Linked DNA regions of Homo sapiens. The protein of the gene in region 1 interacts with the protein of each later gene in a pairwise test. Each region holds a gene or a part of one and is shown in the gene's direction. Other genes may lie near its edges.

What was found.
Region 2: the proteins of KCNK12 (region 1) and AXIN2 interact in a two-hybrid assay, tested with the Homo sapiens proteins (one large-scale study listed by BioGRID and IntAct).

Annotation. Positions count from the first base shown.
Region 1 is NC_000002.12:47,508,790-47,511,985, reverse strand, and holds the end of KCNK12 (potassium channel subfamily K member 12), read left to right. Parts: 3' UTR 1-2,696; downstream 2,697-3,196. UniProt on the Homo sapiens protein: K(+) channel subunit that may homo- and heterodimerize to form functional channels with distinct regulatory and gating properties. Can heterodimerize with KCNK13 subunit to conduct K(+) outward rectifying currents at the plasma membrane.
Region 2 is NC_000017.11:65,537,649-65,541,148, reverse strand, and holds part of AXIN2 (axin-2), read left to right. Parts: intron 1-2,805; coding exon 2,806-2,946; intron 2,947-3,313; coding exon 3,314-3,500. UniProt on the Homo sapiens protein: Inhibitor of the Wnt signaling pathway. Down-regulates beta-catenin. Probably facilitate the phosphorylation of beta-catenin and APC by GSK3B.

The DNA of each region.
Region 1 (3,196 bases):
TCTCCAGAACTGCACAGTCCAATAGGCAGCCACAAGCCACACACAGCTATTTAAATGTAAGTGAATTTAAACTACATTTTCAGCTCGTCAATTGCACTAACCCCATTTCAAGTGTTCAATAGCCACATGTAACTTGTGGCTACCATATTGGATAGCACAGATATAGAACATTTCTGTCACTGCAGAAAAGTCTACAACGCAGGGCTGCTCTAATGAGAGCTCTGGGATCCGAAAGCCTGAATTCCAGGGCATCCTTAAGGGGCAGAAGTAAAAGGCCTTCCCCAACCATCATGCCCCACTGTGGTCTCCTCTGCCTCCAAGTGGCCTTGTCTTCCTCATCCCCTATGGAAAGACCCCCACCTGCTGTTCACCGTGCACCCATCCCTCTCCCACCCCCAGGGCAAAAGCATTTGGTTACCCTGTGATGTCACACCTGTGCGGGTAACGTCATGCACTGTGGGCATCTCTCTGTAATATGGAAGCCCCTCCCACCACAGACACCACAGATGCTGGGGTTCTGGACAGATTTCTTTAGAATACATGTATTTGCACACATGAGAGCATTGGTCCAAATACATATATGCAGGCGCAGGCACACAAATATTTATATTAAAAGCCTAATTCCACAAATGGCTGTAATTAAGACACAAAGCAAAACCTCATGAGGTTGCTCCCTTCAACTCACACATTTACTCTGCCATGCTCTGGCAGCAGGGGAACAAAAAATGGAAGATTTGCTTGACTCTGCAGACAGAGGGAAATGAGGCTCAGTAAGGAGGCCACACAGCAATTCACTAGCTAATTCAAGCAAAAGCCAGATATCCTTCCTGCTAGCCCACAGCTCTGTCCTGTCCATTCGTTTGGTATTGTATTCATTCACTCAACAAACATATGTGAGAACCTACGGTGTGCATGCTCTGTACTGGGCCACACAGAGATTACACAGTCAATGAGACATGAATCTGGCCCTCTATGGTCTAGGAGCTAGGACATGTTGGTTGCCAACTATAGAAGCAGGGATATCACAGTCATACCACCAGGGGCAGGCTCAGAGAAGTCCCGGAGAGGCTGCTTCAGATCTGAGTCCCATGCCAAGCACTAGGCTGCTCTGTGCTTCACCCAGCTGTACTTCTCCGGCCCTTCATTCCTTTTCTATCTTCAACCTGGCAAAGAATAAGCTATTCTTCATTTATTCTGGGCAGCCAGTTAATATTAATACCAGGGTTAATAGACCTGTTTCTCCTGTACACCATCTTGTCTGCTCCTCTACCTAAAATTGCCCTAAGATAAGTTCTAAAAATCCTTCTTCTCGTGGGCAGGTCACAGTGCTGCTGTGTTCCACTGAATAGAGATAAACGACGAGAGTTGGTCATATTCATAGCTGACCAAATACGTGCGGTGAGAGTGTAGGGGTGTTGAGATAGCCCCCAGGGCAGATCCTGGAGCCTTGACTTTTGTGTACCCAGGATGCTTTCCTGTCCCCTTCTTCTAGGGACACTATCTCTGTTCTTTTAGATAACTCCACCCATCTCCATGCAGTCTAGTGGAACTGCCAATCACAGGGTCCCTCCTGTATCAGTTATGAAAGCATTCAACTGTAATGAACAGAAAACCCATTGAAGGGTAGTTTTAAGGAATAAAAATCAAGGTTTATTTCATTACCATAACCAGAACTCTGGAGCAGGTGGTCTGGGGCTAGCGCAGTGACAGTGATGCCATCGGTAAGGCTGGCTCCTCCTTCCCGCTCTGCCATCCTTTCCATGTTGGCTTGCCACCCCAGGTGCCAGATGGTAGCTACCCCTCCAAGGCTCACATCCATGTTACTAGTAGCAAGAAGTAGCAGGGAGAAGGTAAAAAATGCTCTCTCCCAACAGGACTTTTCCTAGACCTCCCTAGGACTTTCTGCTGCATCTCATTGACCAGAAGAGAGTCACATGATCGTCACCACCTATAAGGGAGGGAGGGAGAGAGTGTTGTGCTTTCAGTCCTCTGTACAAGAGGACAGCAAGGGGGAGGGGATTGGGATGGGTGTGAAGTGAGAATGCCTACAGTTCCTGCTGCCTCCCCATCAAGGCTGGATTAATCACGGTTCCGCATTCTCAGAGAAACAGCCATTGATCTAAGGGAGGGTGCATGCCTCAGGTTGGGGAGTGGGGGGGAAGTCCCCTGGCCTTACACAAATTGGAGGGGGTGGAGTAGCCCTTTCTTGTCTTGGTTTATAAATTAGGCCTGGCGGCATGAGTCAGGGTCAAGTTAATGCAATAGAATCCAGTCCAGCTGATTTAAGCAGAAAAAGACCTATCATTGGCAATCAACTCCAACCTGGCCACCTAGCTCTCTGACACTGATGACCTGACTGGGTGACAGAATCGTGACTCCAGCACGTCATGCCACAGTCCTCGGACAGGGTCTTATGTGCTAAGGAGAGACACCTGGACACCACAATCCTGCACCAGGTACCATCTGCACACAGCAGGCCACCTCCAGCCAGCTAATGCTGATACAACTGACGTGTTGGCAGCCAGCTGACATCAGAGACTGTGGTTTCCTGCTATGGGACAGAGAATTTGCAATCTGTTGGTTTTCAAAGACCTACCCCATTTCACCTCCCCCATCTCATCCTGAACAACCTTCCAAGACCCTGGCCTGAATCAGGTTTCCTGTTTGGCAATAAAACTTTTTCACTCAGTGCTCAATGTTTGGTCTTTAATGGCCTTTATTTTCTCTTTAACTTGGACTGTTAAATGCACCCCCACCCCTGGGAAGCCTGAAGAGACTCTAGGGTTGAGCTCTAGTTTGAGCTCTGGGATTAACTCTCAGGAGAGACACACCCACAGAACTAGGTCACTGAGAGGGTTGCTGTCTCTCTGATCAAGAAATAGCCTTTTTCAGATGCCACCATGATAAAGTCACTCCAGGAAAAACAGAACCCCTCACTTGCCAGCAAAAAAAACCAGCAGAAGCATGGGCTCCTTCTCCAATCTGCTTTTGAAAATCTTGCTAAAGTGCATCTAATGTGTAGAATCTAACTCTCATCCAGATTGGTAGCTGCAAGAGAGGCTGGGAAATGTGGTTTTCAGTCTTTTAGCCTCAACAGTACAGGATAGCCCTCTAGAAGGAGGGTAGAAGAGATGCTCAGTGCCTGTCTACCACATCCTCCCTGCTGGGCTGCCAATCAGCTGCTGTCCTCTGCCAC
Region 2 (3,500 bases), on another chromosome or scaffold:
CTCAGCACTTTGGGAGTCGGAGGTGGGCAGATCACCTGAGGTCAGGAGTTCGAGACCCAGCCTGGCCAACATGGTGAAGCCCCACCACTACTAAAAATACAAAAATTAGCCTAGCGTGGTGACGTGCGCCTGTAGTCCCAGCTACTTGGGAGCCTGAGGCAGGGGAATCACTTGAACCTGGGAGGTGGAGGTTGTAGTGAGCTAACGCCAGTGCACTCCAGCCTGGGCGACAGAGCGAGACTCCTTCTCAAAAGAAAAAACAAAGAAAAGAGGTTTATTTGGTTCATGGATCTGCAGGCTATTCAAGAACCATGGCGCCAACATCTGCTTCTGGTGAAGGTCTCAGGGAGCTTTCAATCATGATGCGCAAGGGGAAGGAGAGCCAGTTTGTAACATAGCGGGAGAAACAGCAAGCTGAGGTTGGGGGGGTGGTGGGCAATGCCATGTTCTTTCAAACAACCAGATCTCATATGAACTACAGGGAAAACTTGCTCATTACTGCAGGGAGGGCACGAAACACCTCCCACTAGGTGCACTTCCACCATTGGGGATCATATTTCAACATGAGATTTGGAGGGGACAAGCATCCCAACTATGTGAGAGGTTTGATGACCTATTTTTGAACCTTTGCATTTTCTGAATTCAAAAAAAAAATTCCCTATCAGAAAGAAACTGAAGCACTTATTTCCCAGAAACTAAGAAATGCTAGATGATCCATGCTTCTCTACAGCTTGGTGAGCTCACTGTATTTCCACTAGAATGGAAGCCCTCTGATGGGAGGGAGTTTTATCTATTCTGTTAACCTCTGTATGCACAGAGACTAGAACAGTACCTGACACATAATAGGTGCTCAATAAACATTTGAGTGAATGAATAAGGAACCTCTGCCCCCCCTTGGGACATCCTCCTGCTCTCTTCACTGGGACATTCTACTTCTTGTGTCAACCACAGGACTCCAAGTCATTTTAGTCAGTGATTTTAGTCATTTATTTATGTATTCATTGACCATTTCTCCTCCTGGCTCCTGAAGCCCTGGAGGGTAGCTGTTCCTTTCCAACTCCAGAACTTGGCTTGGTACCTGCTGGTGAGTCTGTGCCTATCAAATGCGGAATGAACGAAGTGTTTAGAAGTGAGGATCTCCTGAGCAGCTTCTTCCTGTGACTGAGATGGTGGATGAAGGGCTCTTCTGGGACCTCTGCTTTTATTTCCATGCTTGCTAAAGCAGCCAGCACATGGCTGTACTCAAGAGAACTTCCCCATCTACATTCCCATTTTAGGGCTGTGCTGTTTACAACAGCCTCAGATCCAGGTTGCAAGGAGGGGAGGGGAAGAAAGCACCCAGCTCACAGCAGGTGTTTATGAATCCTTCCTGCCAGCTTCAGAGAATCTAATTGGTCTGGTTATGTTGTGTTTAAAAAATTAACACATTGAATTGCTAAACCCATGTTGCATTAGTGCACAAACTATAGCTCTTCTCTGAAAGCTCCTCACACAGACAAGGGCAGACTTACCTTGTTTTAAAATTAGCATATTAAAATTGCTTTTCTGAGGACCTCTAGCATCCCCTCCCTCTACAGATAACAAGTATTGATGACATACTATCATTGTTTTTTTGACTGGGGGATATGTGAGTTAACAAAGAAAAGTTCTATCGCCCAAGCTTGTAAATTAGATGATTTTGTCCTGGGGTGTGCAAATCGACTTTCTCCATCAGGCAGCGCTTTGATCAGGGGCTGCAAGGAGCCAGCCTGTGTGAGAATGGCCACCTACACAGGAGCCTTTCTCTTCTTCCCCAGTTTCTGCAGCTAAGTGGTTGCCGTGGCAAGGCCCATCTTTTCAGCTGGGGGAGATGCTAGCCTTTGCAAGTTAGCTTTCTGCTACCCCCACCCCAGCCCAAAGAAAGGAGCTAAGCAAGAGGGAGATTAGGAAGAAGGAGGTAGAACAACTGGAGAGGTGGGGGGTTGGGTGGGGGGAGCGAGATGACAGGAAAAGGACAGAAAGCTGGGCAGCAGGGGTTCTCTCTGTTTGCTGCTTTTGGCAGGCGTACTCGGTGCCTTTTTATATTCTGCACTTGATTTGGAGATGTTCCCTTTTCCCTTGATAGATCAGCTTCAGGCAGCCAAGCTCAGCAGTGTTCTGCTACTAGCCTGCAGCAGCTTTCTTCATTTTCTGTACAAAGAGAGAGGGAGGAGGGAAGGAGAAAAACGAGGGAGATCGAGGACAGTGTTGAGACACCACCACCTCAAAGGTGCGCAGTGTGCGGCCAGGAAATAAATTACCACTTCTTCTCTGATCCAGGCCGTTTGACTCCCTTTTCCCCCACTTTCTTTCCTCCCACCTCCTTTCCAATCTTATTTTTTTAAATTTTCAACTCTCTTTCTGTTTAGATTCTACTTTCTATTCCTTGAGTTGGTCTCTCCCCTCCCCACCTCAGAGGGCTGCCTTTTTTTTTTTTTTTTTTTTTTTTTTTTTTTTTTTTTTGATGGTTGACAACAGTCTTTGAAGATTTTCTACTTCAAAGTAACTACTGATGGGCTGGTTGTACTACAGAAAGAACAAGCAGGGCCTCTCGGAGTGCGACCAACTGCTCCTGCCCAAGGCAAACGCTGGTGGGGACCATGGCTCTCCATGAGGCCATGGCGCTAGCGCATAAAAGTCCCGAGCAGCCCAGGCCGCCTTGCCATCCACTCTACACCCGAACATGGGTTTGCGGTGCACAGCGCCTGGTGCGGGAAGCTCCGGCCAAGCCACCGCCCACCTAGCCTGCTGAACGTGCCTCCTCCCTTTCCTTTCCACGTCCTGTAGAGAACCCACCGCCTGCCCAAGGAGATGACCCCCGTGGAACCCGCCACCTTTGCAGCTGAGCTGATCTCGAGGCTGGAAAAGCTGAAGCTGGAGTTGGAGAGCCGCCACAGCCTGGAGGAGCGCCTGCAGCAGATCCGAGAGGTAATGCGGCCTAGGCCTTCTTCCTGCTTCCGTCCACGGCGTGAGCGCTCGTATGTGTATGCGCATGTGCATGGGGTGCGTTAGGGTGTGCGCATGTGCGTGGGTTGCATGCGCATGCGCGTGGGCTGCGTGTGGGTGTGTGCCTGGGCGTGGGCTGTGTGCGCATGTGCATGGGTTGCGTGTGGGTGTGCATATGCGTGTGGATATGTGCTTGTGTAGGCGGGCCTGTGCGTGTGCGCATGGGCGTGGCTGTGGGCGTGCACACGGGTGTGCGTGCTCCTGCGTAGGGAGCCGAATGTTGCAACCCCAGGGCCTCTGGCCCTTCTGCTTCCTGGGTCACTTCTCCTTCTGACGTCTTCCCTTTCAGGATGAAGAGAGAGAGGGCTCCGAGCTCACACTCAATTCGCGGGAGGGGGCGCCCACGCAGCACCCCCTCTCCCTACTGCCCTCCGGCAGCTACGAGGAAGACCCGCAGACGATACTGGACGATCACCTGTCCAGGGTCCTCAAGACCCCTGGCTGCCAGTCTCCAGGCGTAGGCCGCTATAGCCCCC